Linked DNA regions of Homo sapiens. The protein of the gene in region 2 purifies or fractionates together with the protein of the main gene of each other region. This does not show direct contact. Each region holds a gene or a part of one and is shown on either strand. Other genes may lie near its edges.

Region 1 (3,653 bases), on a different chromosome or scaffold from region 2:
ATAAGAGAGCAGGTCTCGCTCTGAGCATGGGAACATGATGGCAATTAGGAGGCTTTCCTCCTCAGAGGCCTCTTGTGGCTTTTCACAACTTACTGTGCCATATTTTTATGGCCAGCTTATACAGGCACTCGATAAGCCTTTTTCCCAACACCCCATCTCTACTAAAAATACAAAATTAGTCGGGCATGGTGGCGCATGCCTGTAATCCCAGCTACTCGGGAGGTTGAGGCAGGAGAATCCCTTGAACCCAGGAGGTGGAGGTTGCGGTGAGCCGAGATCACGCCATTGCCTTCCAGCCTGGGCAATAAGAGTGAAACTGTCTCAAAAAAAAAAAAAAGACAAAAGACTTGGGTCTACGGGTGGGTACAGAAGAGGCCCTAGGTCCAGATATGAAGGGAAGGTAAACAAACCTTATTGAGATCAAGCTCTGAACTCTCCAGTGGTCTCATTTAGCTGAAGATAAAAATATTAAATCCTTACAGTGCTTTAGAAGTTATGGAAGTTTTTGGTGTCCTCATTCCTCAAACTATAGGAATGCTTCTGTCCTAGGGCCTTTGCACTTGGTATTTGCACATTGTGGATAATGCCTGGAGGCACCTGACAAATAGAGCCAGCTCGTTGATGGATAAGATCTAGAAGTACTCTTTGGAAGGTTGTTAGCTTAGTGTGTAAAATTAGGCTTTGTTGTCCCAAGATAGGGTAGATTATGAATATAACCTACTTAATCTAAGAAATGGACTTAAAGATACCAAAATATGGCATGTAGTATATGGTCATTCACATACACAGGCTTTAAATTATTCTTGTAGTTCAGGAATTTGTTATGTTGGCAGACCCAGACTTGAACCTCTTGATACACTAGTGAGGATGCTTGTATCCAATCCTGGACAAACCTCTATTGAGTCAATTTAATTTTCAGTTAATTACCTAATTTGATTTCATAACTTTCTACCATTTTTAGAATCTGGAAATTTACTTTTAGAAATCCAATTTAAGTTTATCTGAGTTGTGTGACTGTAAGGGAAGAAATGATAATTACATAAGAGGATTATTCATTTGTTACTGCAATTGCATTTTCAAAGCACAGCATTTGGTTTACAGCTAAAATAGGTTGCTTATTTGTTGTAATTAAAGTTAGTATCTAGTGTATTTTTTTGTGACGGGGCATAACTGTCAACCAGGCTGGAGTTCAGTGGTGTGATCTCACCTCACTGTAACCTCTGCCTTCCAAGTTCAAGCAGTTCTCCTGCTTCAGCCTCCAAGTAGCTGGGACTACAGGCATGCGCCACCACGCCCGCCTGATTTTTTTTTTTTTTTTTTCGTTTTTGAGATAGAGTCTTGCTCTGTCGCCCAGGCTGGAGTGCAGTGGCGCGATCTCAGCTCACTGCAACCTCTGCCTCCCGGGTTCAAGCAATTCTCCTGCCTCAGCCTCCTGAGTAGCTGAGATTACAGGTGCGCACCACCACGCCTGGCTAATTTTTGTATTTTTAGTAGAGACTAGATTTCACCATGTTTGTCAGGCTAGTCTCGAACTCCTGACTTAGTGATCAGCCTGCTTTAGCCTCCCAAAGTGCTGGGATTACAGGTGTGAGCCACTATGCCTATCCTAATTTTTGTATTTTTAGTAGAGGCAGGGTTTCATCATGTTGGCCAGGCTGGTCTCAAACTCCCGATCTTGTGATCCGCCCGCCTCAGCCTTCTAAAGTGCTGGGGTCACAGGCATGAGCCTGTGCACCCGGCCCAGTATCTAGTTTTAATGTCAGTAGTGATCAACAGAAAAATGGGGTAGAAAAATAAAAATGTGAGTTTATGTCTGATGTATAAATAAGATACATCAATTTGAACTGCCAGAATTTGGGGCTCGAAGCCTTAAGCTTTTGGATTTCCTGATTATTATTTTTTAAATTTTAATTATTATTTTTTTTAGATGGAATCTCGTTCTGTTGCCCAGGCTGGAGTGCAACCTCCACCTCCCAGGTTCAAGTGATTCTCCTGCCTTAGCCTCCCGAGTAGCTGGGATTATAGGCACCCACCACCACACCCAGCTGATTTTTGTATTTTTAGTAGAGACAGCGTTTCACCATGTTAGCCAGGCTGGTCTTGAACTCTTTTTTTTTTTTTTTTTTTTTTTTTTTTTTTTTTTTTTTTTTTTTTTTTTTTTTTTTTTTTTTTTTTTTTTTGAGACGGAGTCTCGCTCTGTCGCCCAGGCCGGACTGCGGACTGCAGTGGCGCAATCTCGGCTCACTGCAAGCTCCGCTTCCCGGGTTCACGCCATTCTCCTGCCTCAGCCTCCCCAGTAGCTGGGACTACAGGCGCCCGCCACCGCGCCCGGCTAATTTTTTGTATTTTTAGTAGAGACGGGGTTTCACCTTGTTAGCCAGGATGGTCTCGATCTCCTGACCTCATGATCCACCCGCCTCGGCCTCCCAAAGTGCTGGGATTACAGGCGTGAGCCACTGCGCCCGGCCTGGTCTTGAACTCTTGACCTCAGGTGATCTACCTACCTCGGCCTCCCAAAGTGCTGGGATTACAGGTGTGAGCCACCACGCCCGGACTATTATTTATTTATTCATTTATTTTTTGAGACGGGGTCTCTCTCCCCCAGGCTGGAGTGCAGTGCACGATCTCGGCTCACTGCAACTCCGCCTGGTGGATCACTGCAACTTCCACCTCCTGGGTCCAAGGGATTCTCCTGCCTCAGCCTCCCTAGTAGCTGGGATTACAGACACGCGCTGCCACGCCTAGCCAAGTTTTTGTATTTTGGTAGACGCTGGGTTTCACCATGTTGCCCTGGCTGGTCTGGAACTCCTGAGCCCAGGCAGTCTGCCAGCCTCAGCCTCCCGAGGTGCTAGGATTACAGGAGTGAGCCACTGCCTGGCCATAAATTTCCCAATATTGACTGAAGACTATCTTGAACTTGAGATGGAACTGAGCTCCTGGATGTGGTTTAACTCAAGCACAGGGGGTACTTTGCCAGTAGACGGAGTCCTGACACAGCAAGGACTCTGACATATACTCCTCCATACACATTGTAATCATAGTGTACATAACATTCTGAATTATTAATTACATGCGCCCGAAAGGTAAATGGATATGCTAGCTATTCTGTATTTTATTTATTTTCTGAGACGGAGTCTCTTGCTGAGGCTGGAGGAGCAGTGGTGCAATTTCGGCTCACTGCAACCTCCGTCTCTGGGGTTCAAGCAGTTCTCCTGCCTCAGCCTCCCTAGTAGCTGGGGCCTACTGGTGCGCACCACTGCACCTGGCTAATTTTTGTATTTTTATTAGAGATGGGGTTTCGCCATGTTAGCCAGGCTGGTCTCAAACTCCTTACCTTGGGTCATCCACCCGCCTCGGCGTCCCCAAAGTGCTGGGATTACAAGTATGAGCCACTGTCCTCTGCCACCATATATATTTTTTTGAGATATGGTCTTGCCCTGTTGCCCAGACTGGAGTGCAGTGCCAGGATCATGGCTCACACAGCCTTGACCTCCTGGGCTAGAGTGATCCTCCTGCCTGGGCCTCCTGTGTAGCTGGGACTACAGGCACGCCCCACCATGCTTGGGTATTTATTTATTTTGGAGATGACGTTCCAACCTTTTTATTAAAATCAACTTCTCACAATGTATAAATACTGCATATTAGCACACATG
Region 2 (3,653 bases):
AGTTGGTACATGTACAAGACAGGGTCTTTCTCATAGGTAATGTAAAACCATGTGTTCATGACAGGTGCACGTGCTAAGACCATTCCCCTCCACTCATCTTTAGAACCATCCTCTGTCTCAAACATATGTTCCACTGCTTTGCCAATCATTGTGTCTGCCAAGTGTGCATCGCTGATTCGAGATGTCGCTGGGGATTAAAAAAAAAAAAAAAAAGTTGACAAAGTGTTTCGCTGATTACCGACTATGAAGACTGAATTTACTAAAGAAGGCTACACCTGAAATTTTGTCCATGCAACGTATTAGCAAGCATCAGAATCTGGGAAAGCTTTAAAAAGTACAAAAACCAAAGACAAACTACTGGGCCCCAGCTCAGAGATGGATTCAACAGAATAGAAGTATTTTGTCCCAAGTCAGTTAATTGAAAAAAATATGATTTTTTATTTTTCTGGACTCATCTGCTCTTGGTTCTGTACCCAAATCAAAAGTTTTAATTGTTCATTCAAGGTATAAAATACTGTTTGTTATTGTTTACTTAACAGTTAAATTTTGAGATAATTTCAGACTTACAGAAGAACTGGAAAAATAGTAGAGTTCCTGTATACGGTTCACTTTGCTTCTCCTGTATTAGCATCTTACATAACCACAGAACGTTTATTTAAAACTTAGAAAAGCTATTCAAGGCACAGAGGGTTTTTTTTTTGTTTTTTTTTTTTAAAGAAATTGGTGTTTGTTTTCCTTCAGTCTTATTTCCATTTTTTTATTAAGGCATAGGTTTTTACTCTCTTGCTCCTACAATCTTATTCTTCACTGCAACCAAAGTAATCGTTGTGTCACTGATACCACATTGTGTGATCTAAAATGTTCCCATGCCTTCCCTTTATAATTTGAAAAACAACCAAACTGCTCACCATAGCCCCCAAGCCCTAAAAGCCTTCACGCCTCTGCCCTCAGGTTTCCCATCTTCCTCCTTGTTGTTCATGCGTTCTCTACTCTGCTCTTCTTCCTCTCCCATTAGGACACACTCTCCTCTGCCTGATAAGCTCTTCCCCATACCTTCAGAAGGCCGGTTCCTTTTGGAGTTCTCCTGACCAACAAGGTAGCCCCACAAATCCCAGTCACATTACCCAATTTTACCTCTTAATAACATTCACCATGATCTAAAGTTATCCCACTTTATGTTATTTGTGTACTTGTTAGTTGCTTGTACATCCCCATGAAAGCAGAGACCTTCCCTTTCTTGTTTTATACCTAGATCATAGCAGGTCAGTATTTGTATGATTTAATCAGATACCCCATGTGGTTGGGAGCTCAGGTCTCTGAAATGATAGATTAACGGTCCTAGCCCTTAATATTTTTCAAAAGTGGTGAAAATTATCACCTTCATCTTTTTAATACTGGAAAAACTATGAAGGATCCCATTGGTTTTAAGACTTCTCCAGTCCACAATTTTAGATAACTGTCTTTATACCAAATTTAAACAATTATCTTTAAAAAACAAACAAACAAACAAACAAACAATTAGAGACAAGCACGGTGGCTCACGCCTGTAATCCTAGCACTTTGGGAGTCCAAGGCGGGCGAATCACTTGAGCCCAGAAGTTTGAGGCCAGCCTGGGCAACATGACAAAACCCCGTCTCTACTAAAAATACAAAAAATTAGCCAGGTGTGGCAGTGCAGGCCTGTAGTCCCAGCTACTGAGAAGGCTCAGGTGGTGAATCACCTAAACCCAGAGGTCGAGGCTGCAGTGAGACAAGATGGCGCCACTGCACTCCAGCCTGGGCTACGGGAGTGAGGCCCTGTCTTAACAACAACAAAAACAACAACAACAAACAATTAGCTCTCCTATTTTCCTCATTCAACAAACTTCTATTTCTGTTACATCAAAAGAAACAAAAAAGTGAGATTTTCTTGATACATGTATTGCTATTTAATTTTATCAGCAAACCCTAAACATGTATGGCTGGTTTTAAGTACGCAGTAATAATAAAAAATTACACAGAATTCCCCCCGTGTATGACAGTAAAAAAACCCCACTAGTTTCTTAAAGCCAGTAGATCTCAGACTTAGATCTCAGAACTCCATGTGCATTCTTAAAAATTACTGGCTGGGCACAGCGACTCACATCTATAATCCTAGCACTTTGAGCCCCAGGCAGGAGGATTGCTTGAGGCCAGGAGTTTGAGACCAGCCTGGGCAACATAATGAGATCTCATCTCTACAAAAAGTTAAAAATTAGCAGGGTACTGTGGTGAGTGCCTGTAGTCCCAGCAACTCAGGAGACTGAGGCAGGAGGACTGTTTGAGCTCAACGTGTTGAGACAGCAGTGAGCCCTGATCACACCACTATACTCCAGCCTGGGTGACAAAGCGAGATCCTGTCTCTAAAAAAAAAATTAAAACATAAATGGAAATTACTACAGACCTAAAAAAGCATCTGTTTACATAGATAATGCCTACCAATATTTACTACTTCAGAAAATGAAAAACAAATCTAGAAACATTTATTTAAAAATACCTATATATCAATGCATTTTAAATTAAAAATAACTATTTCCTATCAAAATACATTAAGAGTGGCTTAATTTTACATTTTTGCAAATCTCCTAATGTCTAGGTTTTAAAAAGAACAAGTAGATTCTCATATCTGCTTTAGCACTCAATCTGTTATGATCTGCTCTTTCAGTTCAGGTATAAAATCCAGCCTCTCAAAGATATGATACTGAAAAGAATATTCTAATCGTCTTTCAGATAATTCTAGATATACTTATATGAAACCACAGAATTCAACAGTTAGCTCCTTAAAGGTTAGTTACAATGCAGAATCTGAAACCATTAATAAATCTGTCATACTGTTACATTAAAACTCATGTCTCCAGAACATATAAAGAACTCTCACAACTCAACAAAAATCAAAATAACCTAATTAAAAAATGGTCAAAGGATGTGAGTAGATATTTCCCCAAAGATGATTTACAAGTGGCCAACAAGCACATAAAAAGATGCTCAATATCACTAATCATCAGAGAAATGCAAATCAAAACAAAATGAGGTATCGTATCACACCCATCAGGATGACCACTATGACAAAAACAGTAAATAGCAACTGCTGACTAAGGGATGGAGAACTGGAACCCTTGTATACTGTAGGTAGGACTGGAAAATGGTACAACTGCTGTGGAAAACAGTATGGTAGTTCTACCTAAGAAATTAGAATTACGATACTAAAATTAAAATTATAATTACCATATGATCCAGCAATCCCACTCCTGTGCCTATATCCAAAACAACTGAAAGCAGGATCTCAAAGAAATATCTGCATATCCATGTTTACAGGAGCACTATTCACAATTTTACATGGTACAATTTTACATTCTACCAAGAGGTAGAAGCAATCCAAATGTCCATTAATGGGTGAACAGATAAACAAACTGTGGTATATAGATACAATGGAATGTTCTTTTCAGCCTTAAAGGAAATCCTGTCACACGTTACAACATGAACCAACTTTGAGGACATTATGCTAAGTGAAATAAGTTACTCACAAAACAAATACTGTGTGATTCCACTTCTATGAGATATCTAGAATAGTCAAATTCATAGAGACAGAGTGTAGAATGGTGGTTGCCAGGGGCTGGGAATGGGAGGAAAGGTAG
Region 3 (3,653 bases), on a different chromosome or scaffold from region 2:
AACATGCACTGTTCTATACCCCTTGTCTATATATACTTCATAGGTTTTGTTCAACTGCTATTATACACAGCACTTAGTTGTTTGCTTAGTTTTAAGGTTTTTGTTTGTCTGTTTGTTTTTTTGGGAGACAGAGTTTCACTCTGCCTCCCAGGCTGGAGTGCAGTGGTACAATCTTAGCTCACTGCAACCTCTGCCTCCATGGTTCAAGTGATTATCCTGTCTCAGCCTCCCGAGTAGCTGGGATTACAGGCGTGTGCCACCAGGCTCAGCTAATTTTTTGTATTTTTAGTAGAGATGGGGTTTCGTTATGTTAGGCAGGCTGGTCTTGTACTCCCGACCTCAATCAATCCAACCACCTTGGCCTCCCGAAGTGCTGGGATTACAGGTGTGAGCCACGGCACCCAGGCTGCTTAGTATTAAACTTGAATTACACTACATCAATCTCTACTTAGACCCTTAACTCCAGATAGAAACTGTCTTTACTCATTTTGGACTTCCTTCTCTAACAGTGAGAATGACTAAGGTATGTATTTAGTAAGTACTAATTTACCTGAACTTCATCTCCTGCTGTCTTTCGGAATCCCATAAGGGGATTCCTTCAATCAAGGAATCAACGTAATTCCAGTGTGATGAAATTTAGTAAGAATCTTTACAAGCAAGAAAATTTCAGCATCTGACGTTTTTAAACTAATCTATAAGCTATCTTTACAAGAGGTGTTCCCAAGCAACAAAAAGGATGGGCTCAATTTTAATCTCATTTTTCCTAGTGTATACAATGTATAACAAGGAGCTAATAAGCCATAAGGATGAGAAGGCAAAGAAAGGATAGTGGAAAGACATTTACGTTCAGGTGGATTTTAAGAATCACACAATCTCCTAGCAGGAAAACTTTCAATGGTTTACTGAAAGCTTGCTGAGAAGGTCAGGTGGTATATGATGTGCTAGGCATTCATACATGAAAGATACAGTCCCTGTTCTCAAGGAGTAGACAGTGCAGTCTGAGGCAGCTGAAAACAACATGATGCGTTCTAACAGACGTACTATACAGAGTGCATTCACTGGTGGTCCATGAGTGGGAGCAAAGGCATAGAAGTGTTCTGAGAGATGACATGTTAAATTTTGAAACCTCAAGAGGCATTAGATCAAAGAGGCATTAAAGAAGGGCATTTCAGATGGAAGGATCTGTTAAGTGTTACCACAGAGAACAAGAAATAGTTCAGTGCAGCTAGAGTTCAGTAGCACATTTGGGAAATTTGCAGGACACATGTTCAGAAAGACAGGTAGGGCCAAGATGAACAGCTTAGAAGGCTATGCTAACGACGTACCATACAAAACTGTATTCTGCCAGCTACAAAGAATCGTTAATTTTACACAGAAGGGAAATTTTCAGATCAGTGTTTTTGAAAGACAGAATGAGAGATACTCATGGTAGAGGCAAGGAAAGTAGAAGGCTGTTGCAGCAACGCAGGTATAAAGCGACAAAATTCTGAACTAAGAAAGCACCTGTGGGAAAGGAGAAACGGGGGATGGATCTGAGTTATTTATTTAGATATCTGAGGAAAGATCAATTAGGATTGTGTGACCAGTAATTGGTGTGGAAGCTAAGGAAGAAGAGTCTAGAATAACTTCAGAAGTTTCTGGCTTTAAAGACTGGGTGAACTGTGGAGCCACTAATGGAGATGGAAACCTAAAAGAGCCAGGTTTGCAAAATTAGGCAAAAGGTGAGTTCAGTATCTATGAGAGAGCTGAGTAGAGATGCCAAGCAGGGGCAGTAACTGCAGAGAGGGGTCCGGAGTGAGCTATAGATTTGATGTAAGCCATTTGCATTTGAGGTTACTGATGTAAATAAGCTAGCAGAGAGACCATGCAGAGTGAGAAAAGAAGTAAGACAATTCTTTCTTTTCTCCCCAAGACGGAGTCTTGCTCTGTCGCCCAGAGCTGGAGGGCAATGGCATGATCTTGGCTCACTGCAACCTCCGCCTCCTGAGTTCAAGCAATTCTCCTGCCTCAGCCTCCCGAGTAGCTGGGATTACAAGCACGCACCACCGTGCCCAGCTAATTTTTGTATTTTTAGTAGAGACAGGTTTCACCATGTTGGCCAGGCTGGTCTCAAACTCCTGACCTCGTGATCCACTGCGCCCAGCTGGTAAGACAATTCTTTTTTTATTTTTATTTTTTGAGACGGAGTCTCACTCTGTCGCCCAGGCTGGAGTGCAGTGGCACAATCTCGGCTCACTGCAAGCTCTGCCTCCCGGGTTCACACCATTCTCCTGCCTCAGCCTCCCCAGTAGCTGGGACTACAGGCACCTGCCACCAGGCCCGGCTAATTTTTTGTATTTTTAGTAGAGACGGGGTTTCACCATGTTAGCCAGGATGGTCTCGATCTCCTGGCCTCGTGATCCACCTGCCTCGGCCTCCCAAAGTGCTAGGATTACAGGCGTGAGCCACCACATCCGGCCCAGTAAGACAATTCTTAACATATATCACTATTTAGGAATGGGCAGAAAAAGAGAAGCTTACATGGAAACTTCAGATGGAACAGGGATTGGGGAAGGGAAAGAAAGAAGAGGGGGAAAGAAGGAAGGGGAGACAAGGAGGAACACGGGTGAGGAGAAAGAAGCTCTATAGGCAGAAAACTAAAGAGAAGTTAGGTAAGTTAAGAACTAAAATGTGCCAGGCACGGTGGCTCACGCCTGTAATCCCAGCACTTTGGGAGGCCAAGGCAGGCGGATCACAAGGTCAGGAGATCAAGACCATCCTGGCTAACACGGTGAAACCCCATCTCTACTAAAAATACAAAAAATTAGCCGGACGTGGTGGCGGGCACCTGTAGTTCCGGCTACTCAGGAGGCTGAGGCAGGAGAAAGGCATGAACCTGGGAGGTAGAGCTTGCGGTGAGCCAAGATCCGGCTACTACACTCCAGCCTGGGCGAGAGTGCGAGACTCTGTCTCAAAAAAACAAAACAAAAAGAACTAAAATTCTTCTGTTGTATAGGCAACCAGGAGTCATCAGTGAAAGCAGTTTCAATGGAGCAGTAGGGACAGGGTTGAGGAGTACCTGGCAAGTAAGTAGTAGAAGATGAAGACTAGGTCAAGAGGAGTCAAGAGTACTTTGTAGGCTGTTTATCAATGATAGGAAGGAGAAAGTGAAGCATTACCTACAGAAATTTTATTTTTTAAAGAAACATAGGCATGTTTATATGCTAAAGGGGAAAAACCAGTAAAGTCTGAAAAACTGAAGATGCAAAATGACAGAAAAAAGTCATAGGATTTCCAGAGAAGACCAGACACAATCAAAACTTTTAACAACAGGAGTAACTCACTCTTCCCCCAAAGCTAGAGGGAAGGAGTGAAAAGAACAAACATGACTATGAATCAGCCCTATTAAATAATCAAAAGGTTCATATTACAAAAGCAGCAAATCAACTCCTGCCACAAACAGGCAGGCAGTGAGACCTTGGGCAGGTGAGGGTTGCTTACTGGCTCTCAAGACTTAGCAAGTTGGAAAAGCGATCCTTTCCCTAGCTCATCTAGAACACACAGCTCATTGTCCCTCAATTACTGACTCTAGGAAGGCCAAGGAACTGTGCTTTCTATATACCCTGAGTAGAATGTTAGCTCTATGAGGGCATAGACTTGACTCAATTTGTCCA

The links.
Region 1: the proteins of SPIN1 (region 2) and SLBP purify together in Homo sapiens (affinity purification with mass spectrometry; one large-scale study listed by BioGRID and IntAct). This does not show direct contact.
Region 3: the proteins of SPIN1 (region 2) and DDX42 purify together in Homo sapiens (affinity purification with mass spectrometry, with the first as the bait; one large-scale study listed by BioGRID). This does not show direct contact.

What each region holds. Positions count from the first base shown.
Region 1 is NC_000004.12:1,705,753-1,709,405, reverse strand, and holds part of SLBP (histone RNA hairpin-binding protein), read left to right. Parts: intron 1-3,653. UniProt on the Homo sapiens protein: RNA-binding protein involved in the histone pre-mRNA processing.
Region 2 is NC_000009.12:88,464,906-88,468,558, reverse strand, and holds part of SPIN1 (spindlin-1), read right to left. Parts: intron 188-3,653; coding exon 1-187. UniProt on the Homo sapiens protein: Chromatin reader that specifically recognizes and binds histone H3 both trimethylated at 'Lys-4' and 'Lys-9' (H3K4me3K9me3) and is involved in piRNA-mediated retrotransposon silencing during spermatogenesis.
Region 3 is NC_000017.11:63,780,535-63,784,187, reverse strand, and holds part of DDX42 (ATP-dependent RNA helicase DDX42), read right to left. Parts: intron 1-3,653. UniProt on the Homo sapiens protein: ATP-dependent RNA helicase that binds to partially double-stranded RNAs (dsRNAs) in order to unwind RNA secondary structures. Unwinding is promoted in the presence of single-strand binding proteins.